Linked DNA regions of Homo sapiens. The protein of the gene in region 1 interacts with the protein of each later gene in a biochemical or structural test. Each region holds a gene or a part of one and is shown in the gene's direction. Other genes may lie near its edges.

The links.
Region 2: the proteins of IFIH1 (region 1) and RNF144B form a complex in vitro, tested with the Homo sapiens proteins (one study listed by BioGRID).
Region 3: the proteins of IFIH1 (region 1) and CCDC50 form a complex in vitro, tested with the Homo sapiens proteins (one study listed by BioGRID).
Region 4: the proteins of IFIH1 (region 1) and TRIM4 form a complex in vitro, tested with the Homo sapiens proteins (one study listed by BioGRID).

What each region holds. Positions count from the first base shown.
Region 1 is NC_000002.12:162,273,685-162,281,578, reverse strand, and holds part of IFIH1 (interferon-induced helicase C domain-containing protein 1), read left to right. Parts: intron 1-33; coding exon 34-251; intron 252-1,466; coding exon 1,467-1,583; intron 1,584-3,250; coding exon 3,251-3,374; intron 3,375-3,885; coding exon 3,886-4,164; intron 4,165-4,632; coding exon 4,633-4,892; intron 4,893-7,634; coding exon 7,635-7,784; intron 7,785-7,894.
Region 2 is NC_000006.12:18,382,513-18,391,065, forward strand, and holds the start of RNF144B (E3 ubiquitin-protein ligase RNF144B), read left to right. Parts: upstream 1-4,837; 5' UTR 4,838-5,118; intron 5,119-8,553.
Region 3 is NC_000003.12:191,395,191-191,399,850, forward strand, and holds the end of CCDC50 (coiled-coil domain-containing protein 50 long isoform), read left to right. Parts: 3' UTR 1-3,469; downstream 3,470-4,660.
Region 4 is NC_000007.14:99,916,330-99,925,077, reverse strand, and holds the start of TRIM4 (E3 ubiquitin-protein ligase TRIM4), read left to right. Parts: upstream 1-5,547; 5' UTR 5,548-5,676; coding exon 5,677-6,069; intron 6,070-8,298; coding exon of another isoform or gene 8,299-8,376; intron 8,377-8,748. Other genes in the region: GJC3 (gap junction gamma-3 protein precursor), read left to right, coding at 1,475-1,533. UniProt on the Homo sapiens protein: E3 ubiquitin-protein ligase. Mediates 'Lys-63'-linked polyubiquitination of the innate immune receptor RIGI, this linkage doesn't lead to proteasomal degradation but seems to enhance IFN induction.

The sequences.
Region 1 (7,894 bases):
TGGAGAAATGAACTCTTTGAATTTTCTTTTAAGACTTTTCCCTCATTATCATTGATGAATGTCATCACACCAACAAAGAAGCAGTGTATAATAACATCATGAGGCATTATTTGATGCAGAAGTTGAAAAACAATAGACTCAAGAAAGAAAACAAACCAGTGATTCCCCTTCCTCAGATACTGGGACTAACAGCTTCACCTGGTGTTGGAGGGGCCACGAAGCAAGCCAAAGCTGAAGAACACATTTTAAAAGTAAGTCATAATTTTATGTATAACCAATGAAAGCAAAGCTAAAACAAATGCCAGGACTTCTTGGTCTTATTAAATAAGATTGAGTTCAAGTGCTGTGATCATCAGTTAAGTGAAATCTGTTTGCTTTAGTACAATAAATATACTCAGTCTTCTACAGAATACTAATATGCCTTAATAAATATCAATAACACAAAATCATATCATAAAAATGATGGAGAGTGATATAATTAATGGGAAGTTGAGATAAATAGAATGCCTTCTTTTGAACATCTACTCTTATGGTTAAATTTAATGATCTACCTGATATAGAAATATGCATAAACTATGAAAGTTTCTAGTTGTCACACATAATAAAGTCTTACTCCATGAGTTTCAAAACTGCGTATTTTCTGTCCTTCATATGTTATTCTAGGAATCTAGGTAATTCAAATTAAAGGGAAATAGGGATATGAAGATCTTTAAAGATGAGCTTGTCAGCTGCCCCCTAATGGTAACACCACATACAGTGCTACTGTTAATCTTGAGTGTTAAGTAAATCAGAGTAGCCCAAGAAGTATTTTGGTACCAAGGCAATTGCATTTGAATTTTAAGTCCCTTACTTTAAGTTGAATTCAATACAAATTATGTAGAGTAGACACAACATTCAGAGATGCAATTATAGGCTCCAAAATATAATTTATTACTGGGATTAAGGACTAATTCCAATCTAATAATCAAGGAACATGACTAAGGATGCTCCCAGCTTTATGTGTAGATGCCTGCTTTATGTGTAGAAGAAGGTGGTAGTATGATCCACGGATGTCAAGTTGACCTTTGATATGCCTCATGTAACATGGTTATCTCAAAATCATTCTCTGTCAATGATGGTAAATTGTTATACTCTTTCCATGTCAGTTTTCCACTTGGAAAATGGAATTTAAGGAATGAATATCAATACACCTTTTTCTCTGTTATTACACCAACTTGATTTAGAAGCTCCTTTTTCCTATATTAGGACAAATGTTGCTGATTGTGGGTTAATGAGATCCATAATAAAACAATGTTAAAATGCTATATTTAGCAAGCAATGCTACATATTACTTTCATGAAATTTTATACCACATATTTATGCTACAATTTAATGCTACATATTTTTTACATGAAAAAGAGTTCTACGTTGAATAAAGTGAAAGGGAAAAATAATTGCATAAATATTGAAAAATGTCTCTTTTCCAGCTATGTGCCAATCTTGATGCATTTACTATTAAAACTGTTAAAGAAAACCTTGATCAACTGAAAAACCAAATACAGGAGCCATGCAAGAAGTTTGCCATTGCAGATGCAACCAGAGAAGTATGGGCTTAATGTTTTATATCTATTGATTGACAATACTACATTCAGTAGAAAGATGGCAAAGGCTATTTTATACTGACCATCTGAAAAATATTATTTAAAAATTTTAGCAAACAAGTTTCAGGTTTTTTTTTAATTGATGTTAGGCAGTAAAGCACTACAGTGAATTCTCGCCTCTAGACCTCTTTTAGTTTTCTAATTTACATGAGGAATAGCTTATTCATTGTTTGTACATATGAGTTAAAAGGGACAGTGAGGGGCCATGGGCAGAGGGATGTGTAACTAAGCTGGAGGGGTTATGACAGTTCGTTTTAGCCTTTTTAATTTTCTTCGTGAATTCCAGGATTGATTTTCTGACATTCCACAGAGCCATTTTGTTGCTATCAAATTACATTTGGCAATGATAATGGGAATCCTATCTAATTTGCATACTTGCATATTTACTTTCTTAGGAAAACAGTGCAATGGTAAAGAAGTGAAATATTTACTTTAATGATGCTTTTCTGATGAATTTTTCAGGAATTATAAGAATAAACTGAGAGTCAATTTGGACATTATGGCCAGTAAATTATGTCAATACTTTATTTTGTAAAATTTAGAAAGCATTACAAATTCTGGCCATATGTACTTGATAATACCATTGAAAATAAGAATGTTGGGATCAAATGATATGAAATATGCATAGTAGATAAAACAATGCTTGAAATATAGTAGGCACTAAACCAATGTTAGTAACTAGCCTCCGTATATCTCTTTTTTTAAATTCTGAAAAAGACTGCTATCTACTCCAGCTGCACTAGCACAGTTGAATATATTTTATTCACTTTCCTTTTTTTGTTACTTATTTGGTTTTACTTGATAATTTTAAATGCATGTTTCTACTCATAAAGATTTTTAAAACTAAATTTCTCAGGTACATTTTTTAAAAGAATTTGCCATTTTTTAAACTTACTTTAATTTTTTTATATACCTTGAAGCATAACATACATACAGAAAAGTACAAATTCATATGTGTACTGATTGCTGAATTTTCCTAAACTGAATACACATATGTAAACAAAATCCAAATCAAGAGACAGCACACTGCCAGTATCCTAAAAGCTCCTGGCTCCCCCTTCCAGTCACCATGCCCCAGGAATCACTACTATCTTGACTTCTAAAACAAAAAATGAGTTTTCACTGATTCTGAACTTTATATAAATGGAATCATATAGCATGCACTCCTTTATTTCTGGCTTTATTCAGACTCTACTTCAACTTTTTATTTTGGTCGAAATAATACTGAAACCAGTTTTACAAAGGAGGAATGTTTCTTAAATTACACTGTAAGCTTTCTAAATAATTGTGGCATTAATGCAATATGTGTTTTCTAAGTTACCTTTAACATACAAGGTTTATATAATTCATTAACTTTACTTTTGTTAACCTTTTAAGTTGGAGATTCCAGCAGAGGTAACAGGGTGTTGGTGTGGGTGTGGCTTGATGGCAGGCTTAAAAGAGAAGCTGACAAAAATAAATGTACAGACAAGTGATGGGACACTAACCTGTTACTTTGTCTAAACAAAGATGAATCAGATTTATTATAACCTAGAAATTATTCTAACAAAGATAATGTTATTCCTTTAACAATAAGAATACATAAGAATAAGTGTGTACTTTATTTTTAGGATCCATTTAAAGAGAAACTTCTAGAAATAATGACAAGGATTCAAACTTATTGTCAAATGAGTCCAATGTCAGATTTTGGAACTCAACCCTATGAACAATGGGCCATTCAAATGGAAAAAAAAGGTAATTTAGGTTTGGACCTAACACTTAGTTTATCCCATGTTTATACCAAGATTTTAGATGACTATATCACAGATTCCCCAAAAAATGGAAAGCAAAAGTAGTTCCAAATAGAATTTCTGTGTTCTCTGTAGGACAAGCATAATAAACATGTTCTAATTCCTTTTCTAAGGAGAGAGATTCCAATGCTATCCAATTTTCTCTTTGTCTCCAGAGTCTTGAGATAAACTTTAATAGCTCTGTCTCCAAAGGCAAACTCAACTAATATATTTTCATGCCATTTCTCTGTGCATCAGCTACATGTTTTTGCTGAGGCAGAACTCAAGCAGCAAGTCTAGGAGTTGGAAAACTTGCCCTGTTTCAGAGCTCAGGACACATTTTGAGCCTTAACTTGCCCATTTTAAAACCAAGGTGAAGCCAGTTTTGCAGTTAGTAACATATATTCAAGTCCATGGCACAATTTTAGGGGGTTTATATGCTTATTATTTCACTTACATAATATATTTTTTCACAGCTGCAAAAGAAGGAAATCGCAAAGAACGTGTTTGTGCAGAACATTTGAGGAAGTACAATGAGGCCCTACAAATTAATGACACAATTCGAATGATAGATGCGTATACTCATCTTGAAACTTTCTATAATGAAGAGAAAGATAAGAAGTTTGCAGTCATAGAAGATGATAGTGATGAGGGTGGTGATGATGAGTATTGTGATGGTGATGAAGATGAGGATGATTTAAAGAAACCTTTGAAACTGGATGAAACAGATAGATTTCTCATGACTTTATTTTTTGGTAAGATTCAAAGTAACATATACTGGTGTCATTCATTTACCTTTTCAACATGAACTTACTGCTTCTCATAAGCTCTCCAAAAAGAGAAATATCTTTTGAAAGAAGAAATCCCACTCAGATTGGAACTATTTCTAATGATATGACCAGATTAGCTACCAGTTGTATGATCACAGTCAGTCATTTGGTCATTCAGTTTTATTGTCAAGACAATTGTAATGAATTTATTTATTAAACCATCCTAATTATTAGATATAGCGCAAGATTGTAGATGAGCCACAATTCATGAAACCTTCTAGTGTAATTCGTTGTATGTTTTACTAATTTATACTTCCAAATAGTTTTTAAATTAATTAATTTTTAATCAATAAAACTGTATATTTTTGGTGTACAAAATGTTTGATATATCTGTACATTGTGGAGTGGCTAAATCAAGCTTGTTAACATATCAACTCTAATTATTTCTTAAAGAAAACAATAAAATGTTGAAAAGGCTGGCTGAAAACCCAGAATATGAAAATGAAAAGCTGACCAAATTAAGAAATACCATAATGGAGCAATATACTAGGACTGAGGAATCAGCACGAGGAATAATCTTTACAAAAACACGACAGAGTGCATATGCGCTTTCCCAGTGGATTACTGAAAATGAAAAATTTGCTGAAGTAGGAGTCAAAGCCCACCATCTGATTGGAGCTGGACACAGCAGTGAGTTCAAACCCATGACACAGGTATAAATATCCTTTTGGACGACTTCTTTTCTTTTCTTTCTCTTTTCTTCTTCTCTTCTCTTCTTCTCTTCTTCTTTTCTTTCAGACGAGGCCTCGCTCTGTCACTCAGGCTGAAGAGCAGTGGCATGATCAAGATTCACTGCACCCTTGACCTCCTAGGCTCAAGCAATCCTCCAGCCCCAGCCTCCTGAGCAGCTGGGACTCTAGGTGTGCACCACCACACCCAACTAATTTTTTTATCTTTTTTGTAGAAAAGGTGTCCCACTATGTTGTCCTGGCTTGTCTTAAACTCCTGGGCTCAAGCCATCCTTCTGCCTCTGCCTTCCAAAGTATTGAGATTATAGGCACGAGCCACTGCGCTCAGCCTGGACTTCTTTTCTTATGCTGTTATTACTCTTCTCAAATTGTTTTTAGTCTTTTTCTACCAATCCTCTCACCACCCATGAATACATTTACAGGATAAAACACCTGTTCTTGAAATAAAATCTAAGGCTAATAGCAATCAAATCTGTGGTTTTTGAGAGGTTAAGTGTTGTTTTAGGAGTCATTTTTCCCACATAATAATTGGAAGAACTTTCTAAGTTTCCCTTGCAAAAATAAGTGACATGTAAGCTTAACAACAAAGTTCAGAAATGATTGCCATGTAGTATCAAGTGGAAAATTCAAACTCCCACAAAAATGTGTTCGTTATAACTAGAACTATGCAAAATATATTTACATAGAATGAGACCTCTAGGGAAACTTGAAAAAACTAAAGAATTTGATATATTAGAGATTTGGGATTCTGGTAAGTAGGTTTTCTGTTCCATTTTAAGGTGTTTTGTTTTACTTTGTTTACATGTTGCTTACTGTGGGCATAGTAAAAAAACACTTGGGTAAGAAAAAAAGGCACTAGTAGACATTACAAGCATGCATGAAGCAATGATGCCTTGTTAGAGTAAAATATTCTTCTGAGGGCTAAAATCACATTGACCCTGAGTCTTTCTGGACAAATGGATACTTCCTTTCTATTATAGTTATCACTATTCAAGCCAATGGAGCAAATTAATTCTGTTTCAGTGTTTGCTGGAAAAAAATTCTTGAAATGGTTCACTATAACTCTTTATATACCCTCTACATGCACTCCTGTGAGCATTGCCAATAAAATTAATGCCAGAGAAAGTACTGTTTTCCTTGGGTAACAAGTTTGCTTCCTTCTTTTTGATGAGATGTAGTTTGCTTTATATGTTTTTCTTTTTGCCTTAGCTTCCAGAAAGCTAGCAGGAAAAACTCAAGTTCAGTCTCACAGCCTCTGTGTTGATTCTTATGAGTTCTGTTTTTAAATTTCTATTATATTAACTTTAGCGTTGTGACTTTTATTGTAAGAGGGCTAAGCTTCTCTGTAAAAAGAGGTAGAGTGCAAATGAAAAGCCTATGTTCAAGCTACTTTCTGCTCCTTATTCATTTCAAACCAAGGGGCTGTGTGCCAAAATACAGAACATATTCCCTTCCTTCCCCACTCCTTGTATCCTCACCTTGTAAACTGGGGTGGACAAACTCCTTAGCAATGGTGTTAGGCATCTATGTGATGTGACTTGAAGATCTGACACTGTCTGGAATTTTTGTTATTAAAGTTACTCCTTCAAATTAAGACACAGGCATCTTCTGCTAAAATCCAAGAACATGTAAGTTTTTATCGGGAGATGTGAGGGCCGGAGGGAGAAATTTTCAGAGAAGACTCAAGAGAGGCCTTTCTACAGGGTTCTCCGACAGTTAGGAGTAGGAGTCAAATAAGGACTCACACTGCCTCTGAGAAGAAAGGGAAGGGGATGGAAGAACATACTTTTGGTCTGGCAGCTTTATTTTTGTTTAATGTATGGGGGCAATAGACAGTGTGGATGTGCACCAAATGCCAACTGGACCAACAGCTTTGATGAGAGTGGTTATGAAAATAAAACCACATTGTCCATATCAAGCTAGGTTTGTGCTCACTCATTTCTCCCATGTAAGGATGAGAGGTCATATTTTAATTTATTTATATTGACTTTCAAAATTCAGAGTTTTTTCATTTGAAAATAGTTTTATTTACAGTTGCATAACCTCTTCTTTCATTTTTATTTATATTGTCCCTTTGAATTGATAATATATTTACCTCATTCAAAATTAATGAGGCACAAGGCATACCACTGACCTCTAGTCTTCCAGCTCCCCTCCCTAGATGCAGCTGATGTTTTCAGTTTCTCTTGTGTCCTTTTGGGAATATTCCATAGCTTCTAACTCAAATGATTCTTAAAGTGACCAAATGCATATACAGTGTGCATTTTCTCTGTGACTGAAAACAATATATCAAAGCATCTCTGCATCTTATCCTCTAAATAGCAAAGATTCTGAAGTTAATGTAGTGGGGGAAAAAAGCCCATTTTAGCTTCTGATTGTCATATCCTCTTCTCAACCGACAGCTCCTCCTTTCTTCCTCTGGAGTCACCCATCAATTTATTTCCTTGGCATAAAATGTGGTCTTCCCACCTCCAGACTGGATGATGGAAATATTTTTGTTATTGTGTGGTAATCCCAGATTGGAAATCAAATGTTGTCTCACCATTATGTCTTTGTTCAATGCCAAAAACAGATGGCAACAAATCCATGTATGATCTAATCCTTTGATTTACACTGACCAGTTGCAATTTATTATTTCTTCCTCTAATTAGAAGATTTTAATGTGTTTAGCATCACAAAATTTAATTTATTAAAATGTTTCTACAGAATGAACAAAAAGAAGTCATTAGTAAATTTCGCACTGGAAAAATAAATCTGCTTATCGCTACCACAGTGGCAGAAGAAGGTCTGGATATTAAAGAATGTAACATTGTTATCCGTTATGGTCTCGTCACCAATGAAATAGCCATGGTCCAGGTACATTCAAATACCTCTACTTACTATGTTAATTTTTATTTGTTGTGTTCCTATTTTAATTGCTTTCTTTTAGTTAAACAGCAAAAACATCTTTTTAGTTTTTAAAACAA
Region 2 (8,553 bases), on another chromosome or scaffold:
AATTTTTGTATTTTTAGTAGAGATAAGGTTTCACCATGTTGGCCAGGCTGGACTTGAACGCCTGACCTCAAATGATTCACCTGCCTTAGCCTCCCAAAGTGCTAGGATTACAGGCGTGAGCCATTGGCCAGGCTGGTCTTGAACTCCTGACCTCAAATGATTCACCTGCCTTGGCCTCCCAAAGTGCTAGGATTACAGGCACAATCTCTGGTGAACAATTTGTAATATGTCATTGCTCAGAAAGTTAAAAAATATTTTTGTAGATTGTAGTGTCTGGATTTTACATTTCAGTTTGAAATATGAAATGTTACATTTACTTATTTTTTTAAAAAATATATGTATTTATTTATTTATTTGAGACAGGGTCTCACTCTGTTGCGCAGGCTTGGAGTGCAGTGGTGTGATCACAGCTCACAGCAGCCTCGACCTCCTGGGCTCAAGTGATCCTCCTGCCTCAGCCTCCTGGGTAGCTGGGACTACAGGTATGTGCTGCTATGTCTTGTTAATGTATTTCTTATTGTTTGTAGAGACAGGGTCTCACTATCACAGGTGCTCAGGCTAATCTTGAATGCCTGGGCTTAGGCCATGCGATTTTCCCAAAGTGCTAGGATTACAGGCGTGAGCCACTGTGCCTGGCCTACCTTTATTTTTGTAGTATAAAATAAGCAATTTTTTCTTAGACTTGTTTGAGGGCTCCTTTTTTTTACCTACCCTTTAAATACTGATGTTCTTTTGGGTTCTCTTTTTTTAACCCTTTCTTTTCCTTCCCCTTTCCCTTTCTTAGATAAATAACACTGACTGAGTTCCTAATGTGTATCAGGCCAGGACCATGGTGTACAGCTGAGCAGGTTGTGCAGTACACAATTCCAGGAGCTGCCAGTCACTGCCTCCACCCCAACCACCACCCTGGCCCATCAAGATTTGTATCGTGCAGGCATCTCCGTGTATCAGGCACTTTGGTAGCTACTTAAAAAAACCACTTTTACCCTCACAACAGCCTATGAGATGAATGTCATCATTCTTATTTTATAGATGAGAAAACTGAGTTTCGGGTATATTAAATAACTTCATTAAGGTTACATAATAATGAGTGGGTAGTGGAGTTTGCCAAGGTCCAAATCCTCTGCTTCCCTCTATAGCATGTGGGTTGTCTTAGCTTTTGGTAATCTCATCTATGGCCACCACCTAAATGATGGCAATTCCCAAATGACTCTCCACCCTAGATCTCTCTCTGTTGATAGCCTACTGGTCAGTTTTTCCAGTATGCCCCAGAGGCACTTCTGATTCTATAGATCTTAATTTGAATTATCATGGTTTCCTTACCATCACTTCTCTTTTATTCCCCCTCTTAGTGGTGCCAGCAGTTGGGGCTATTCTTTTTCTCTTATCCCCCTGCATCTGATATAGTTTTGATGTGTGTCCCTGCCCAAATCTCATATTGAAATGTAATCCTCATTGTTGGAGGTGGGGCCTGGTAGGAGGTGATTGCATCGTGGGGGCAAATTTCTCACGAATGGTTTAGCACCATCTCCCTAGGTACTGTCCTGGGGATAGTGAGTTCTTGTGAGAGCTGGTCGTTTAAAGGTGTGTAGCACCGCCTCCCTCCCCCCTCCCCCCGAAACGCTCTCTTGCACCTACTTTGACCATGTGACAGGCCTCTCCAGAGGGCCAAACAGATGCCAGCATCATGCTTAAAGCCTATAAAGCCTGCAGTACTGTGAGCCAATTAAATCTCTTTTCTTTATAAGTTACCCAGTTTCAGGTATTTCTTTATAGCAATGTGAGAATGGACTAATATAACATCCAATCAGATACCAAGTTCCATCACTTCTGTTTCTGAAATCTCTCTCCATTGGTTCCCTTCCTTTGCATGGCAGTTGTCACTGCATTAGCTCAGACCCTCATTCATTTATTCTGGATGTATCAGCTCTGTCTGAATTATGAAAAATTTCACCTAGAGTCTCATGTCTAACCCTTTGTTTTAGCTGTTTGCTCAGCCTGGTTTACCCTTCTCTACCACACCTATTGGGCTACTTGAAGACATAGATTTAAATCACTGATATGGTTTGGATCTGTGTCCCCAGCCAAATCTCGTGGTCGAATTGTAATCCCCGATGTTGGAGGTGGGGCCTGGTGGGAGGTAATTGGACCATAGGGACAGAGTTCTCATAAATGGTTTAGCACTATCTCCTGGTGCTGTTTTTTGTGACAATAAGTTCTTGAGAGACCTAGTTGTTTAAACATGTGTGGCATTTCCCTGCCCCACCCCGCCTTGCTTCTGTTCCAGTCACGTAAGACATGCGTGCCTGCTTCCCCTTCACCTTCTACCATGATTGTAACCTCCCTGAGGGCTCCCCAGCCATGCTTCCTGTGCAGCTGCAGAACCATGAGCCAATTGAACTTCTTTTCTTTATAAATTACCCAGTTTCAGTTATTTCTTTATAGCAATGTGAGAACAGATTAATATAATCACCTTCTCAGAGAAGACTTGATTCTTTTCATCAACTCCTTTCCTTTAAATTCTTCTTCTCTGTGCTCCCAATAGCACATCATGCTTAAGTCTATCATATCACACATTATGTATCACTCACACATTGGGTACAACTATCAGTACCCTGATAATTGATTTGCTTGTCTTACTCCTTCCCTGGATTGAGAGGTCTTTGAGGACAGGGAGACCATGTCTAATATCATTATCTTAATACAACCTAGCAGATTGTCTGGGAGGAAATCAATAAATGCTCCAGAGAATGAATATCCATTCACACTGTAGACTCCTTAGGAAGATCTGAGAGAGTTTGTTCACATAATATTATAGCATTCAACGTGTTTATTTAGTCTTATTAAATTTTGACTGCAATTTAAAAAAAATTTGCATAGTTGCATGGTTGAAAATAATCAGTGGTGATGTTACTCAGTTGTGCAAAATATTTGGGATAATAGGCAGCACTATTCGTGCTTATGTTCTCATTCATATTGGCAGCAGCTTCTTCCCTTATCCTGTTAACAAGAGATTATAATTTATGAATGGTAATTTGAAAAGTGGACTCTGTGTTGAACTTTGGTTTAAGGCTCAGGAGATTTGCATCAACACCAATGAATAAACTAACCTCTTAGAGGTTGCTTTTTATCTTTCCTAGTTCCTGTCCACCAAAATGGTCACTATACCAAGAAAATTCCTTGAAATAGATTATCTCAGAACCTAAGCCATTGCTAAATCTGAAGGTTGGACTTCCTTTGGGATGGTTTTCATTTACATTCACCTTCCTCATGTAACTCAGATTTAGGTCTCATTCTAGCTTGGCCTGTGTCTGGTTTGGGCCAATCTCTTAAATCTTCCTGGACATCAGTTTCCTTATTTTTTTTTTTTTTTTGAGACAGAGTTTCGCTCTTGTTACCCAGGCTGGAGTGCAATGGCGCAATCTCGGCTCACTGCAGCCTCTGCCTCCCAGGTTCAAGCGATTCACCTGCCTCAGCCTCTCGAGTAGCTGAGATTATAGGCACCCACCACCACGCCCAGCTAATTTTTTGTATTTTTAGTAGAGACGGGGTTTCACCATGTTGGCCAGGCTGGTCTTGAACTCCTGACCCCAGATGATCTGCCCGCCTTGGCCTCTCAAAGTGTTGGGATTACAGATGTGAGCCACCGCACCCAGCCCAGTTTCCTTATTTTTAAAATCAGGTTATTTGCTAAAATAGCTAGGAAGACTTTTCAAGCTCAAATATCCTACCGTGGGTTCTTTTATCATCTTATTGCCCCTGTCCTTTTTCTCTTCCTCCCTGACTGGTGAGCTGGTCCTCCTACCTGCCCTAGCATGGCACATGTAGATACACTGTGTTATTCAGCACTTTGCTTTGACCTAGAGGTTTTCTTCAACTTGGAGGGCTGAGAAGCAATGTTTGCTTGTGTCGTTTGGAATGGTGCCTGTTGGCGTGCACAGATCCTTTCCACAAAGGGCCTGTGAGTCCCTTCCTTTTAGGAAGCACATTCCTGACAGTGGTTGCAAAAGTAGAGAGGGATTGCAGAGTGAACACAGATTCTTGTGTCAGAGCGACATTCCTAAATGGCAATGTTCAGCAGACTTAGGTGATTGTGATCTATGGGGGATATGGGGAATGAGTAGGTATGCGATTCATTATGAATGTCACACAAATGAAGTGTCCAAGGGTTTGGAGCAAGGAAGCACTTCATAATACCTCACAGCTTCTGGATTATTTTGTTACATTTTTGTTTAATTGAGGGTACAACCAGTTAAGTTACAAAGCACTTCAAGTGAAATCATTGTTTCATCAAGAAGTGTCTGTATTTTATGAGGTAAACTAAGATTATTCCCGATTTGATTCACAGGTATTCTAATTTCATCATTAGATGCAAAAGGACAAGTGAGGTACAAGCTGTTTTTTGATGAGATGTGCATGGGAAGTGTTTCTATAAAACAGTTGTCTGCCACGTGGGAAGGCAGGTCTGGGCTGTTAGAAGTAGAAGAAAGAGATTTAAAGAGCTGGGAAGGAGGGAGAAAATAAAGAAAGGTGGCCTGTGAGGATATGTACAGACAGAGAGGTAGCAGGCGCTTAAGGCCAAGAGGTGAGCTGTCCCTGTCTGGGCAGAAGAAGTGCGCTAGGGGCAGCTGCCTGCACCCCCTGCTCTGAATTCCTGCAACAGCGGTCCCAGGAGAACAAGAGACAGGTCCTGACAAGCAGTAGAGTCGGTGCAGCGCGCCCGGGTTCGGATAGGGTTAAGGCCAACACCTGCAGCTGAAGTACGACCCACATGGGAAGTAGGAAGTGCGGCGCCTGAGCTTCCTGTATAAATAAACGCGCTGCTACCGCTGCTGGCGAGCTGTGCCCCACGCTCCCGCTGCAACAGTCCCGGGCATCGCAGCTGCCAGTCAAGGCTAGGAGGCGGTCGGGGACTCCGCCTCCTCCCGACCCGTAGGTCTGGGAGCGCAAGTCCTGTTGCAGTCTTGCAAAGTGTAAAGCTGTCAGCCGCAGAGCACGGAGGAAAGACGGAGAGAATGGAAGAGCTCCTGTCCGGTGTGCCAGCAGCCCGGACTGGCGGTGAGCGCGAGGGAGGCTACTGAGAAGCCCGGCGACGGAGGAACGCAGGTCTGCTGCCAGGTAGGTTTAGCGAGCTTTTTAAAGGCTACAGGCGTTGCAAGACCGGAATGGTGTTGCTGGACTAAGGAAAAAGGACAGGAAACTCACTGTGACACCACAATTTTTCGATTTTCTGTCTCTAGTGCTCAAACCATACAGAACTGAATTCATTCTGAATGCCTTAAACACCTGTTAACTTAGAAGAAAAATGCCTTTGTTAAAGGAAAGTAGTTTCATTTCTAATAAAACAGTTTCTATAATAGAATGTATTGTAGAATCCGAGATTAGACCAGACCTCTCCCTAGGTCTTAAGGGGAGACCAAAAGTTGGCATAATCTCGGATTATGCATTATAGTGCTTATTTTATCAGGTAATTGCTAATGAAACAGTGAAACTCTGATACTACGAGAGCCATTCTCAAATTTAAGTTAAAATCGAACTGATTGTCGTTTGTGCAGGGAAAAGGTAGGTATCTTTTGCTTATTCTTTCTAAAACACCTTTTGTTTTTCTCATGAGTTTCAAGGATCCTGCTGTAAGTCTACTCCTCATGCATATACACTATTCACATAAAGATTTCCCAGAAATTAATTCCCTTCTCTGGGAAATGTTCTTTTTTCATGTTCTCATAACAGACTGTCAGTTTCATATTGCTTTCTGCCACATGTATCTTATCAAAACATTAGCTCTGAGGTTCTTAACAGGACTATCTCTGCTCTTCCGATTTGGCATTTCTGGACGTTTATTTGAACATTGAGAGGTATAAATTAAATGGCAATGTATCTAACATTTCTGAGGAAGCAGATTAGGGGGTGTCTGTGCCCAGAAGCAAAATAAATGAACTTTGGGATGACTCAGTTTTTAGGGTGTGGGTAAGAGGCAAAAGGAACCTAGCCAGTCCTAACTGAGTTGCTGGCTAATTAGAGTATCTGTCTGCCGCAGCTTTCACTGAAATGAGCCTCTTGGTCCCTTTCACATCAAATCCCTCTGTGAGTCCCTCCTTCTCCTTAGTTTATCTTTCCTTCACAACCTGGGTCCTTTTCATGGACAGCAGTGCCTTAAATACTTCTAAAACTATCCTGAGGGGGAGAAAAACCTATAGCAGATCCACAAAGCCACTTGTAGATAATTGTATTATGAAATCCAAGGTCATGGTTTCACACAACTCCTGCTCTGCCCTTGCACACCTTTGACTGGCATTTTTTTTTTTATTTTTGTCGTGGGCATAAACTTAGAAAAGTGGGAAAGGGAAAAACCTCAGTTTCAAAAGTAGTCTCTGACTAATTAATTATCTTGATTAAAAAAAGGTAAACATATATAGTGAACGTGAAAAAGATGTTGAGTAGTAGAATTGGGTTGCTTGGCTTTTTATTTAAAACAAACAAAACTCAACCAAAAAAACCCCCCAAAACCCCAAACAATCACCCTAGATAACTTTCTCCTACACTACTGTGCTGGAAGTCGGGCTTGAGTGTGGTCAAATCCTGCCCATTTACCCAGAGTTTTACAAATATTTACAGTCATCTATGCCAAATATCTTTGTGCTGAGTCCCAAAGAACATTCTCAGCATTCAAAAGGCCCATTCTCATGAATGGTTTCAGTTCATTGGCAATTTAAAGGCATTCAGGCTTCCAAACTAGGTCAGCTTAAGACATGTCTTTTTAAAATAATCAGTTTTTGGGTCTCAGATTATGAACCAGGTTTTTGGAGCCAAACTCTACAGCAGAGAGAAGAGTATGCTCTCTCTGGAAAGAAAAAGCTTATTTTATCTACCTGGTATGACCATTTAACTTCCTGAAAAACGTCTTTCTCCTCAGTAGTATGAATATTTTTCATCTGAGGAGGTGCACTTAAAATTTCCTTCTTGAAAAGTCATTTCAATATTTTAGACGTTTAGAAACATTTATATGTATGTCAGAATCCTTTCTCCGAAGTGTTTCTGCTAATCCTGGCTTCTTTGTTTCCCCTGGCCTTGACTTTATGACATTACTTTCTTGGAGAGTGAAGTTTTTAGTGTTTGAAATCTCCAGTTTGAGATAGAGGTCAGGAATCATGCTGAACCCAGATGTTACTGAAGGAACAAAGTCTGAGCAGTTTTGGGACTAAGCCTACTTTGTACAACTGATTATTTTGGATGTGGGAAAAGGGCCAAGCTGCCAGACAAGTCATGCTTTTCACTTGGACTTTGGGGAATAGGTATCTGTAGCCATTGCTCCTAAGTACTGAAACATTTCTTTCAGGGGTGCCTACCTTAATTTATAGAAGCTCCTTACCTGAAACAAATGGTCAATATTTTCAGCTTGTGAATTTCTGGAAGTGAATACAGATGAGAACCAGGCCTTTAATATTTTCTCTCCTCCAAGTACAATCAGAAAAGTTATCCACTCTACTACTGAGTGACTGATTTGCTAGGTGCTAGGTTAGATGCTGGGATATAAAGATGGCTAAGATGTGGTCTCTGTCCGGAAGAAATTCTCATAAGGTCAGAAGTGACTTGGGTCTAGAGTGGTAGTTCTGAATTCACATTGCTTTGCCAGATTATAAAAAGTACTTCGATGTTTGTCACCTCGATCATCTTAATTTTCTTGGTAGTGTTACCTTGACCATTTGACCATTAAGAGGTATATGACACCTAAGTTAATTTATGTAAATATTTTAATTCATAATTTTTACCTTTAGGTGTATGTGGGAGGTCTTGGACTAAAGTTTTAGTTTTATTAACTTTGGCATTTGCTATTTACCCAGTCGGTGAGTACTTTGGAACCTAATGCATCATACCATAGTTGTTATTAAAAAATGGATAACTATATATTAAATGAGTAAAAATGACCAATGCTTCTGCAACGTGGAATGAGGATCTTCTCATCTATGAGCAGATCTCTTTCTTGAATTCAAAACACAGCAATCTAAGTGAAATAGACTTTTCTTATTCATAGCTGGAGATACTTCTGATCACATGGCTTGGAGTATTTATTAAGAGCATACTTTGAAAGCCATGTCCCATTGTTTTCTAAATCTTTTGAAGTCACGAGTTTGAGTCCCAGCCCTTCATCAACTTGTTCTTTGTTTTTCTTGGGAAGATAAAACAAGACAACTCGTTTCTGTCTGTTGAACTTGTGGCTGAAACCATAAACCCACACATTCTCCTGCATATGATTATATGAAATCCTCTGTTGAAAACCTCCTCAACTAGTTGACTCTTAATAAGTAGGAGCTGGGTTTAATCACCTTTACATCCCTAGCACCTAATGTGTAGAATTTGTTCTTTGTGTGTTGACTTTGTTTCCTTCATGATAAATTCCTGTTATAGGAAATTAATTGGCAAAGACATACAAAAATCTACACCTGCACTTTGCTCAGGTGGGGTGAAGATTCCTCTTCCAAACTGGTTTCCAATTTGTTTCTAATTAAAATTTCTATATGAAACTTTTAACTTTAACAGGAGGGGGTAATATTG
Region 3 (4,660 bases), on another chromosome or scaffold:
CGCTTTTCTTCTCTAATGTGTCCTGAAGCTGAGCTAGATGATGAGTAAATTCTTTGCTGACTGTTGCTCATCACTTTCTCTCAAAGTTAGAACTTTTCAGTATAAAAATAATTAGCTTTTAACTGATTATTAATTTTCTTTAATAGTTTCTGTCAAAACTTGTCTAAAATTTGTGTTGTGCCAAATTGGAAATACCCACTATAATATGGTGCATTCAGTTTACTCCACAAGTGGTTAACATTTTAAGTCCTAGATTTTTTATGTCTTGCCTTTGTATAAGCATCGCTTTGGGGAATACCAAGATGATTCATTATTCAGTGATTATTTTCTTGAAAGATAACTATGATGATTGGCTGTAAAATCTTCACCCTAATAAAGGAGTGAGATCTCTGTGTAAACAGCTTTCTGAAGGACTGATAATAGAATAGAACTTGCAGCCAAAGGCTTTTTCCCTTTTGAGAAGACGGTATTTGTGTAAGGAGTGCTAAGGTAGACTTCATTGTACATAGAGTGCCATATTCTGTTGAAACGATCATAACAAAATCAAAACCTCATGCTTCAGCAAAAAGGAAAAAAGATTTTTAAATTACTTTGTCTATTACTTACTGCTCATAGAGAAGTGACTATATAAAATGGTCCAATTTTCTCATTTCTGGTGGTGCCTGTGAGTCTTAAAGCCATATCTGCTTATCTTACTGTTGATAGAATACTTTTTTTCTTTTTAGCCCATGATAAGTAATATGGGCAGGTAGAAGCAAACTGGAGACTGTCCTGTTAATGCTGCATGGGGCACAATGTCTTTCAAATTATTGGTGGAAGAATCTCTTTTATCCATGGCGAGAGGTAAGAATATTAAAGAGTCAGGATATTGTTGCTCCTGGTATTTAACAACTGTCATTAGAAATGCTGAAATTTAATTGTAGAGAAGTCAAGAAAGAAAGAGTAAACTGAGAAAATCTTACTACTACAGAGTCACTTTTACAATGAGACCTGCACTTTATGCCAGCACTGTTTGTGAGGAGCAGTACTGCCTTAAATTAGTTTGACTCTGACTGATGTCAGTGTACGTTACTTCCTTTATGTGACTGACAGTCAGCTTTCCATTGAGATATAACATTCACAGATGATCCCCAAGTATCCTTGTCATCAGAAGCTTTGGACCTTTTCTGCCACTGACTTGTGGCTGATCTGTAACACAATAAATACATAATTTTATTTCATGTTGTCTGTCCACCTCTGAATAAGCAGTGGCATGACCAAAAAGACTGGTAGAAGGAGAGAATTTCTTGGCCAAATCCTTCATACCAGGTACCACTTCTTGAGTAACTGAGAGTTGACTGTCTTCTATGGTGACTACATAGAAGATATTTCCAAAGGTTCTGTTATGCAGTGAAGACATTCAGATTATTTGTAAGAATTTCACCAACACCCTTGTGTATTGAAATGCTTAACCATTAACAGGGAAAAAAAAGGAGAAAACCGAACAAAACAGAGACATTTACTTGAAATGGGAGGTTTGCTAATGTGAAGAGTGTTTCTGTTTTATTACTTATAAGAGAAAAGCAGGAAAACTTTTGCTTTGATAAGAAAGACACCAGAGTGGTGATTCTGTTTGATGCCACAGGCTAACACAATCGTGTAATCATGTTGAGTTGTAGAAATATATGGCCCTAAAAACCATTCTCTTTCCCTTATATATATAAATATGTGAACACTGCCTAGTAACATTTTAATAGATTTAAGATGCATTTGTACATTCTCAGCAAACTAGAAGAAAATGTTTTTTCTCTTTTTGAGTTAACTTCATAGCATAGAGAACCAGCACTGTGCAGGTTTCAGCATTTCAGATAAGGGCATAATTAATTGTGTAACTTAATGCCCTGTTATTCATTGCTGAGGTTCATATAAAGAATAGAAAAATTGAAAGATGGGTTTGGGCGACATTTTCTTCCCAAAAGATCAAGTAAGGAGTAAGAACAAGTAAGGGAAGACAGCTAAGAGAACATACTATGACATATCATAGAATTGGGATACATTTTTGTTGCACTGGATTTCAGGCTATACTGCTAAAATAATTTCTACCTGTTAAATTTTGTGAGAGGGTTTTTGACATCAGAATTTTTGTATTTCTGGTCAAATTGGTCTTGGAAATCCCTATGGTCTCTAATTTCAGCTCTTGCTGTAAACTGCAAGCCAAATGCTCTTTCTCAGAAAGAGCTATATTTTTCTCTTCTTACAGGCAACCCAATATTTATTTCATAAAGTGTTATAAATATTGAGAAGATACACTGGGGAGATAGCATATAAAAATGATGCTCCAAAATGAGAATTCTATATGGGGCTTTCCCTAAGAAGAATCCATCCCAGCACATATTTTGAAAAGGTGCTGAATTAAAAAGTACAAGAGTTTGCTCATATAAATCAAGTTGCCCAGGAAACCTGAGGTGATGCTATCATTTGTCTCATAATTTAGAAACGTGATCTCTTGAGAGAGAGACTACGCATTGCCTGGGCACTTTCAGATTCCTTAGGAAGTGCCCCTTTGATATTTGGAATGTGGATATATTTATAAAACAAATGGATTGTTATTCCAAATCCACATGGATTTATAACCAAGCCCCAGAAGAATAGGCAGCTTTGAAATAGCTAGTTCGTGGAATTGAACAGAACCTTGATGGAATGCAGTTGCCTGTGTGAGGACAGAAAACAAAGAGGCTGCCTCAGACCACATGCCTATCTAGAGATTAAGTGAATTTGTGAGGGACATTTTGTGGATGCCTTAAAGATGACCAGTGGTGGGTTCTGATGGGAATATATACACTCATCTGGACTAGGCCAATGGAAGCAGTCTCTTTCAGTTCACCTCCGTACAGCACAAGTTGTTCCTGCTCATGACCTCATTGAGGAAAATGAGAATTGTGGTGCTGGTGACTTTCATGTGTCTTGGGAGGTTGAGGTGTTCAACATCGTTAAGGCACTCCCAAAACGCAAACCTCCTTTTTTAAATGCCAATTGTACATCTACATTAATTCATCTATGCAAACTTGTGTTTTCATGGTTTGTTTTTTACACTATATTTCTCATTAGGTTCTTTAAACATCAGGTTTAATATTGATATTATGAATAATTTTTAAACCAAAGTATTCTATAAGTCTGTGTGCTTTGTTTTCCTGGATGGTTTGACCAAGGTAAACATCAGTCTTGTCCTTCTCTCTTAATAAAGTCATCCATTTGTTAAGTCAGTGGTCTCTGTCTCATGTTTTTGTTTTGTTTCTTTACAGCATTCAAGGACAGGGAAACTTACGAGAGTCTTATTATAATTATTATTATTTACAAAATGACCCTAATAGGTCTGTTTAGTAACAGTGAAATTTTTTCTTACTCCATTTCCATACACTTTCTGTAAATATGTATAACATGATAATGATGCCTGGTGTATTGAAATCCTCAATAAATACTGCCAAGTGTGGATCAGTTGGAGAAGTAGCTTTGTTTTGTGTGTGGTGTTTCGTGGTTTGATTGATATATTTGGGAGGAAAAAAAACAGGTAAGTGGATGTTCACACAATAATTCCAGTGATTAAAGACCCCATGCACAACTCTGCACTATACCTGACACCTTGTGGACACTTCAATGTATTTTGAGAAATGGATATTAATAACTGATTTATTCAATATTTTACCTTCATAAGAATTTTTTTTTTCTTATTTGGTTTGATAGAATAGCCACAATGTAGGAAATGATTCTGCAAAAATTAGGTATCTTAAATATAATATTTTCAATGACTACTAAATTTATTTTTAAAGATGTCACTATTTAGCCACCCCTACAGTAGATTCTCTAGGCCTCAGATTCCTCTGTGGCAAATATAGCAGGAAATCTAAATGATTTCTGTAGTCTCTGCTAGATCCTGAGTAGTACCAGTGATGTGCAGGTGATACTGTTTTATTTAGTTGAAGATTAGTATGTTGATTTCAACCTTTGGTCTCTAAATAAATACTAAAGTTGCCAGTGGAAAAAGTTGATGCATCTAGAAGCCAACTAAAAAATTAAATATGCAAGTAAAACAGATCCCTTTAATCTGTGGTAAGAGGTACTCAAGGTGATAGGGTGGTTTATGGGGAATATGACTTGAGTCTGATTGTCAGGCTATGGCCATGTGGCCATGTGAAAAGGTAGCATACAAGAAAGTTCCTTCTTTTTTTTTTTTTTTTTTTTTTTTTGAGATAGAGTCTTGCTCTGTCGCCCAGGCTGGAGTGCAGTGGCGCGATCTCGGCTCACTGCAAGCTCCGCCTCCCGGGTTCACGCCATTCTCCTGCCTCAGCCTCCCAAGTAGCTGGGACTACAGGTGCCCACCACCATGCCTGGCTAATTTTTTTGTATTTTTAGTAGAGATGGGTTTTCACCGTGTTAGCCAGGATGATCTCGATGTCCTGACCTCATGATCCGCCTGCCTCGGCCTCCCAAAGTGCTGGGATTGCAGGCATGAGCCACCGCGCCTGGCCAGTTCCTTCTTACAACAGCTAAGAGACCACTATCTACCTCGCACACCTTCGAAATTTGGTGAAACCTTTAAGAGGGTTTTGGACTACTACAAATCCTAGAACCATGGTTTCAAGACAATTTTGCCCCCATTTCAAGGGCAGGAAGACCAATGCCC
Region 4 (8,748 bases), on another chromosome or scaffold:
CTTATTCATTCTATTTTTTGTACCCATTAACCATCTCCACTTTCCCCCTACTACCCTTCCCATCCTTGGTAATCATCAGAGAAGATATACAGATAATAAGAAAGCATATGAAAAGATGTTTAACATCATTTATCATTAGAGAAATGAGAATGATTGACTTTAGGGTTAGGGAAGAGAAATACAAGATAAGACTGGAGGATTTTGTAGCGGTAGAAAGTAAGAAAGTGCTACTCCCTCTTCCCCACAAAATGACAGGAGTTTGTCAAAGGGACACAGATGTCAACTGAAAAAGTTCCCAATGGCCAACACAGGAATAATCTGAGCAGTAAAATAAACAACATAGTATTGGATTATACCCAAAGTATAAAATAGGAATCCATGAATTCATAATATAAATAATTGAATAAATAGGAGATAACTGACAAATTTCTCATGCAGAAGAATGTAGATACTCCACCGCAAGGAGGGGAAATATAACTACTCACTTTTTTTTCTTTTGAGATGGAATTTTGCTCATCGCCCAGGCTGGAGTGCAATGGCAGGATCACTGCAATCTCTGCCTCCCAGGTTCAAGCAGTTCTCCTGCCTCAGCCTCCTGAATAGCTGGGATTACAGGCGTGCACCACCATGCCTGGCTAATTTTTGTATTTTTAGCAGAGACGGGGTTTCACCATGTCGGCCAAGCTGGTCTCGAACTCCTGACCTCAGGTGATCCACCCACTCAGCCTCCCAAAGTGCTGGGATTACAGGCGTGAGCCACCGTGCCCACCAACTACTCCCTTTTTAGGCATGGGCTGCACATAGTGACTTCCCACTAAACAGTAAAATAGGGGGAGGGGAAAGAATAACTTTACAGGGAGAAACCCATCAAATACTACCTCAGCCGGGTGATCAAGGTTAACATCAACAGTGATGAGCAATGTTGACAGCATGTGCCCCGGATATGATGTGATGACGGTTTTTGTATTTTCCCGTTCTAAAATTTCCATGGGGCTATTCTTTGTATTTTCTATTACTTCTCTGAGACTTTTAAACTTTCCATTTGAATAGCAGCTTTATAGTCTTGATAATTCCAACATGTGTGGCAACTTACATTCTGCATCTGTTACATTTTTTCCCAACGTGAGTTGAGATTTTCCTGGTTCTTCACCTGCCAATTAATATCGATTGTATCCTGGACATTTTGAATGTCATTAGGATGCTCTGGGTCTTGGTTAAATTTGGTGGAGGATGTTGATATTTATGTTTTAAAGGGTAATTAACCCATTTGGGTTCAAGTCATAAGTTTTGACCAGCCTTCTGAGGGTTGTGGTTCCAATGTCAGTTCAGTTTTCAAAGCCTTTGTAGTACTCTTCTGATAGGTCCCACATGGGTGGCACCTAAAGTGTAACCCAGGGTCCTTGGGTTTTGGGTACGCACTGTGAAAAAGTTACACACTTGTAACTGTTACATCTTGAATTTTTGTTTTAAAAAGTTCCAGGAAGAAGCTTAGCCCAGGAAAAACAAAGACCAGTTGGACCCAGAGATGCCTGAGTTGGAGATGAACTTTGGCCAACTTTCCTCATCACCATACTTAAAATCCTGTCCAAGGAGGAGCTTATTCACCATTTTCTATACATGTGACATATGTAGCAGCATAACCGACAACTGGGACTGCGCTGCCTTGACTCCACCTCTACATACAATGACTCAGCTAACCAGACTAATAAAAGCCATGTTTGCACCATTGCTCAGGGAGGCATTGCTTTGGGGAATTATTCCCAGTGTCCTCCTTACTTATCGCAAGTAATAAAATCCCCCTGGGAAATCCTCCTTGGTTGTGGTCATTGGACTGTCCCCTGCCAAGCAATTTAACCCATTCATTGTGTGGGTAACAAAAGGCCAGTCTGGGACATGAGATCTGGGTCTACAGTTTAGTTCTCAAAGTCTTTGGCATGCAATTTAGGACCAGATTCATCATACCAAAAAAGGGAGATAGTCTCAACAGAATTCTCAAATTACTTAAATATCAGAGGCAGTGTAGAGAAGGAGTACTTGGTGGTATGGTAGGTTTTCTGACAGGAAACAAAAGATGGAGGTAAAATGGAACCAGTACTTTCTTTCTGAGAATACTGACTGCACCAACCATAACATGAAGCGAAGGCTATATCTCCCTGAAGTAAGAAATGTAATAAAGGAAACTTTCAGAAATAATAGATCATCTGGAGATGTTGGGCAGTGTATTTGGTAAGTTATAACTACCAGGTATCAATACAATAAGCTTAGTTTGAATACAATAAGCTTAGTTTCTTTTTAAAGAATTTATCCTGCTCTGTGTTCTCTGAGCTCCTTGGATTGGTTTGGTGTCTTACAAATTTTGGAAATTCTCAGCCATTATTTCTTGATTTTTTTTTTTTTTTTGAGATAGAGTCTTGCTCTGTCGCCCAGGCTGGAGTGCAGTGGTGTGATCTCAGCTCACTGCAAGCTCCGCCTCCCGGGTTCACGCAATTCTCTTACCTCAGCCTCCCGAGTAGCTGGGACGACAGGTGCCTGCTACCATGCCCGGCTAATTTTTTTGAATTTTTAGTAGAGACGGGGTTTCACTGCGTTAGCTAGGATGGTCTCGATCTCCTGACCTCGTGATCTGCCTGCCTCGGCCTCCCCAAGTGCTGGGATTACAGGGGTGAGCCACTGCGCCTATTTCTTGATTTGATGTTGATATTTTCCCACCAGTCTTGGATGCTGTGTTCTGTTTCTGTCACTCTTTTTGTGTGTGTGTGTGTGTGTGTTTCAGCAATTTCTATTTACCTACCTTCAAGTCTGATTTTTTCCTCAACTGTGTTCAGTCTCCTAATGGGCCCATGGAGGGCATTCTTCATCTCTATTATTATATTTTTTATTTTTATAGTTTCCATTTTATTTTTCCTGATAGTTTCCATCTATTTGCTAAAATCACCCATCTGAGCTTGCATTTTGTTCACCTTTCCCCTTAGGGCCTTCATCACATTAATCACAGTTATTTAAAATTCTCTCATATTTCTAATGTCTATGTCTTATGAATCTGGTTCTAATGATTGTTTTATCTCTTTGGACTGTGTTTTTTCTTGCCTTTCTGTATGCGTCTTTTTTTCTTTCTGTTAAAAGTTAGTCATGTTGTATTTTTTTTGCTTAAATTATTTTTTCAATTCTCTCTTCACAGTATGAAGTAAAGATTGTTTTTATGCTTGGAGATGAGTGTGTCTTTCCTTCTGCTAGGCCTTTAGTGCTCTTGAGTGCATAGCAGTGGTTCGGTGGTATCAGTCTAGTCAGAAATTGGGCTAGGTTTACAGTTTGTTGTTGTGGTTATCCTCAGTGCACAACAGACTTCAAATTTCTCTAGAGATAGCTTATGTGTAGGGTGTGGACTTTATTTTGAAAGTGTGTTTTAAAGAGGTCTGTATGGATGTCAACTCGATGCAGAGTGGACAGTGGTAATTTTGTAATATATCAACTTTGCTAAGCTAAACTATGTTTCCCAGAATTTCCTTTCCTTTTGTTTCTGGTTAGAATAGCCCAACAGAGACATGGTTGTGTAAGTCTTGAAGGGGAGAACTGAAGCATCCCTCCAGTTTTATACTTGAAACGGTGGTGCAGGGACACTAGGTGCTACTGCGGCTCATCTACTTTGTCACCAATCAGCTGGTTCACCTTGTTGGGATGGGGCAGAAGCTTTTCCCTGAGTCTTCCTTCACCTTTTTTGATTCCTGAGCTGTGTGTGTGTCTAGTCCTGTGGCAAAAAGTGTCAGCTCCTCTAGCAAGGATACTCATATCTTTAAAGTTGGAGACAGTGAAAGAATGACCAGCTCGTGTCTTAGGTTCCAACTCATTTTTGCTCTTCCCTACTTTATGTTCATCTTCCCTTCTTAACTGCTTGCCCTGCGAACATAAAGAAACATAGTGATTCCACTTCTCTGAATGAACCTTGGCTGGTATACAGACTTATAGACATTTTGTGATGGAGAAAAATTGTTAATTAGGGAGCCTCACTTAGTAAAGAAGGAAGGTCATCTCTGGTATGGCAGGAATAAAGACATAAGGATTTTAAGGGATTTACCTGAAAAGATTTAAATGACTACTGTAAGGGGAATAAATACTTTGCAGGAATGCTGAAACTTCTCATTCAATACTTAGGTAAACATATAGACACACAGATGCCATAAACACTCATGGTAAACATCAGTAACTGTTAAGAGCATTCCTTCCTGCTTGGTCCCTATTAAAGAACCAGATCCCTTCTCCATAGAGTATTCCAATTTGCAAAGAAAATCCATTCATTAGTTGTCCAATTTAAATGTTTTAGAAATATTCAGTGGAACTTTCATCAATAACCCCCAAACAGATACCTCAAGAACCCCTTTTTCTAATCATTTAATCATACTACTTACTGAGAAAAATTATTATAGGAAAGGCAGTATTTGATATTGGGACATAAAAAGAATGAAAAATCTGTTAAATAAGCAAAAGCCCATTAGCCTGAGGCTGTCTTGGTACTTGAGTTCCCATATAACAAAATACAACCTGACTTAGTATGTAAACGAACTGAAGCCTAACTTACTTTATTTTTTATAACAGCTGGGTTTCAGCCAATCACGGCCGAGCTTCAGCAAATAACAGACAGCCAACTGATCAGACCATGCCCCAATAAGGCAAATGCCTCATCATATCATTGTCAAATAAGGCAGACACCTAGATGTTAGCTAATGAGGTGATTTCTCTACTTTGCTTCCTATAAAAGCTAGCAGGTCATACTGCTGGACAGAGCTCTCTGAACCTCTTTTGGTTCTGAGTGCTGCCCAATTCATGAACTGTTCTTTGTGCAAATAGCTTCTATTAAATTTGTCAGTCCAGAGTTTTTTTTGTTTTAAACAAATATTCACAAGAAAAGGAAGAAAGTGGGAAGAATAAAAAGCAAAGCACCTCAGAAACACAAGATCGAAAATCCACTTAAGGGATATAGATAATTCCCTGAAACAGGTGAGCATATTATTTGTTGAAAGCCTCCATGGATGTTCTTTGGGATAGCAAAATGGTTGCTACTTTTCAAATTGGATACCAAAAAGGCAATGTATCTGCATCTCAGAATCCAAATCATCCCCACGTTAGCCAAACTCCAGGCCTACCAACACAGATCCTTCAAGTCTTCCTGGCCTTCCAGGCCCCTAGGCTGCAGCTCGCCCAGAACTCCTGGGACTCTAAAACTTAAATCGGTCTAACCAGCAGGCGAACACAGACCTGAACCCTCAAACTTGGAAAGAAAGATCATAGGCACCTCCCCGGTTGGCTCCCCCAGGGACCACAACGTCCGGCTCTAACGCCTTGCCCAAGTCCTCTGTAGCTTTCCACAGGCATTTCTGGGTCTCTATAGCTGTTTGGAGGAGCCACTCACCGGTCCCGTCCTGCCCCGCGCCTAGGCCTGAACCAACCCCCTCGCGGTTCCGGCGCGGATACCCAGCAGCTTCCGGTCTTGCGCGCTCAGGCCGGGCAACGTCCGTGCGTTCTTTTTGGGTCCTGAACCCCGGAAGAGAAACTGCGTTGTACCCTTTTACGTGAGGCGGTGACGGCGGTTCGGAAGTCGTCTGGCCTCCCCGCGGCCGCTCGCAGCTTGCTGGCCTCTCCCGCGCCTCACGTCGGACTCCGTCTCCGCGGCAGGGAAGCAGCATGGAAGCTGAGGACATCCAGGAGGAGTTGACCTGCCCCATCTGCCTGGACTATTTCCAGGACCCGGTGTCCATCGAGTGCGGCCACAACTTCTGCCGCGGCTGCCTGCACCGCAACTGGGCGCCGGGCGGCGGCCCGTTCCCCTGCCCCGAATGTCGGCACCCATCGGCGCCCGCCGCGCTGCGACCCAACTGGGCCCTGGCCAGGCTGACTGAGAAGACGCAGCGCCGGCGCCTGGGCCCCGTGCCCCCGGGCCTGTGCGGCCGCCACTGGGAGCCGCTGCGGCTCTTCTGCGAGGACGACCAGCGGCCAGTGTGCCTGGTGTGCAGGGAGTCCCAGGAGCACCAGACTCACGCCATGGCACCCATCGACGAGGCCTTCGAGAGCTACCGGGTGAGCTGGCCGTCGCGGTGACTATGACGGGGCTGTCAGTGTTGCCCGATAAAGTTTACTTAATGCTCCTAAAAGAGCCACGAAGTGGCTGTCATTCCTACTGGAAGCATGAAAAGCCCCTGAAACTCAAAGAAGTTAAGCAAAACACGAATTTCAGAGCTAGGGTTAAAACTGGAATGAGAGGAGGGGAGGTGCAAACCTCAGCAATCATTGTGCAGAATTTTCAATAAACTGGCCCTTGGGGAGCTCATAATAAAGAAAAACATACTGAGAGGGTGTGTGCCGCTGCTGTCCAATAGAAACCACATATGTAATTTAAAATCTTTCTGGTAAGATAAGGAAACGAGGTGACGTTAATTGTAATAATATATTTTATTTAATCTGATTACCCCAAATATTCAAAGCTGAGATGAAAATTATCAATGAGATTTTTTTTTTTTTTCTGAGATGGAGTCTCACTTTATTGCCCAGGCTGGAGCACAGTGGCGTGATCTTGGCTCACTGCAACCTCCTCCTCCGGGGTTCAAGCAGTTCTCCTGCCTCAGCCTCCCGAGTAGCTGGGATTACAGGCACACGCCACCACACCCGGTTAATTTTTGTTTTTTAGTATAGAGGGGTTTCACCATCTTGGCCAGGCTGGTCTCGAACTGCTGACCTCAAGTGATCTGCCCCGCTTGGCCTCCCATAGTGCTGGGATTAAGGTGTGAGTCACCACGCCCGGCCTCAATGAGATATTTTATACTCCTTTTTCATAATAGGTCTGAAATTGGTGTGTATTTTACATTTACAACACATAGCAGTTTGGAATATCCACGTTTCAGGTGCTTGTATGGCTAAATGGATACTGTATTGGACAGTGCCTGTCTGTATCTGTAAATGTCATAGACAGCTGATGATTTGGGAAAAGCCTAGCTTGTAATGATGAGGCTGGGTTTTGTTACTAGCTTCCTTCATCAGTTGGGAAAATCCTGTAACATTTGAATTTGGGGATTATCTGTCCTATCTCATGGGTTAAGAAGCTCCGGTTGAATAAATCACTTTACCTTACTCTGCTTCAGCCATACTGGCTTTCTTGCTTTTGTTTCAAGTCTGTTCTCTTTCTCTACCCACATCTATCCTTTAGATCCTTTTAGCTTTTAGCTTGAAGACCTTCCCTGATCATCCTTTCCAGAGTAGCCCCACCCCCTCCCATTACTGATGGTGTAACTCCAGTGGTCTCCAGCAGAATTGATATGCAGTAAGTACATGAACACATGAATTTATTTATTTATTTTATTATTATTGTTTTTGAGATGGAGTTTCGCTCTTGTTGCCCAGGCTGGAATGCAGTGGTGAGATCTCAACTCACTGCAACCTCCACCTCCCGGGTTCAAGTGATTCTCCTGCCTCAGCTTACCGAGTAGCTGGGATTACAGGCACCTGCCAGCATGCCCAGCTAATTTTGTATTTTTAGTGAAGACAGGGTTTCACTATGTTGGTCAGGCTGGTCTCGAACTCCTGACCTCAGGTGATCCACCCACCTTGGCCTCCCAAAGTGCTGGGATTACAGGCGTGAGCAAGCTTTCCTGGCCAAACACATGAATTTAATGACACAGTGAAAATGTTTGGAAACTGTAAAATACTGTACAGTTGTACCAGCTGACTATGAACAGGAAACAGACACAAAGCTGGACTAGAAAGTGTATGTTCATTCCTTCACTCAGTAACGTTTATTGATGCTTACTATTTGCCAAACATTGTTTTAGAATCTGGACATAAGTGGATGAGAAAGACATGGGCTTTGTCTTGTAAGGAACTTAAGCGTGTACAACATTAATTTCAGTGTGTGTGAGAGTAGCTGAAGTATTTACCAAGTGTACAGAAGGTCTGAGGTCGGAGTGATCACTGAGGAGTGAGGAAAGGCTCCGTTGAGGAGTTAAATGTGTTAGCTCTTCAAGGGTGAGTAGAGGTAGGAAAGAAGGTATTTCAGGCCAAAGGAACAGCATATTCCAAATGTGGTGGAGTGGGATAGCATGTGGTGTGTGAGAGGACTGGAGGTTGCTCAGTACTTCTGGAGCATGGAGCATGGGAAGGAGGATGGTGGGCCATGAGCTTGAAGAAAAAGGCAGGGCCTTATCATGAAGGATCTTGTTTGCCATAGTAAAAAGATTGAACTTTCTCTTTCAGGCAGTGGGGAGTTATAAAAGGGTTTTAAGGCAGGGAATGATATGATCGTTTTTTTTGTTTTAGACAGGTAACTTTGACATCCACGTGGATGAATGGAAGAGAAGACTAATTAGGCTGCTCTTGTACCATTTTAAGCAGGAGGTAATAAAGACCTGAATTAGTTCAGGGCAGGGATGATGGAGAGGGAGGGATGGAGTGATAATGAGCTGGAGTTGAATGACTTGGTGATCAATTAGACTTGGTGGGTGAGAGAGAGAGGAGTCTTGGATGGTAGTTCAGATTTCTGCTTCAGATGGCAGGTAGATGACTGTCAGGTTAACTGAGGTAAGGTACACAGGAGGAAGCGTAGTCTTAGGACAGAAGATCCCATGCTTGTGGAATGTACTGAGTGTGAAGTAATTGTGACAGGAAGTCCAAGGAAGAGGGACAGGAGGTGGGGTGCCTTGGAGGCTAGAGATAATATTTTAGAATCCTCAGCCTGTTCTTGAAGTCATGGAAGAAGTAAGAAGATGA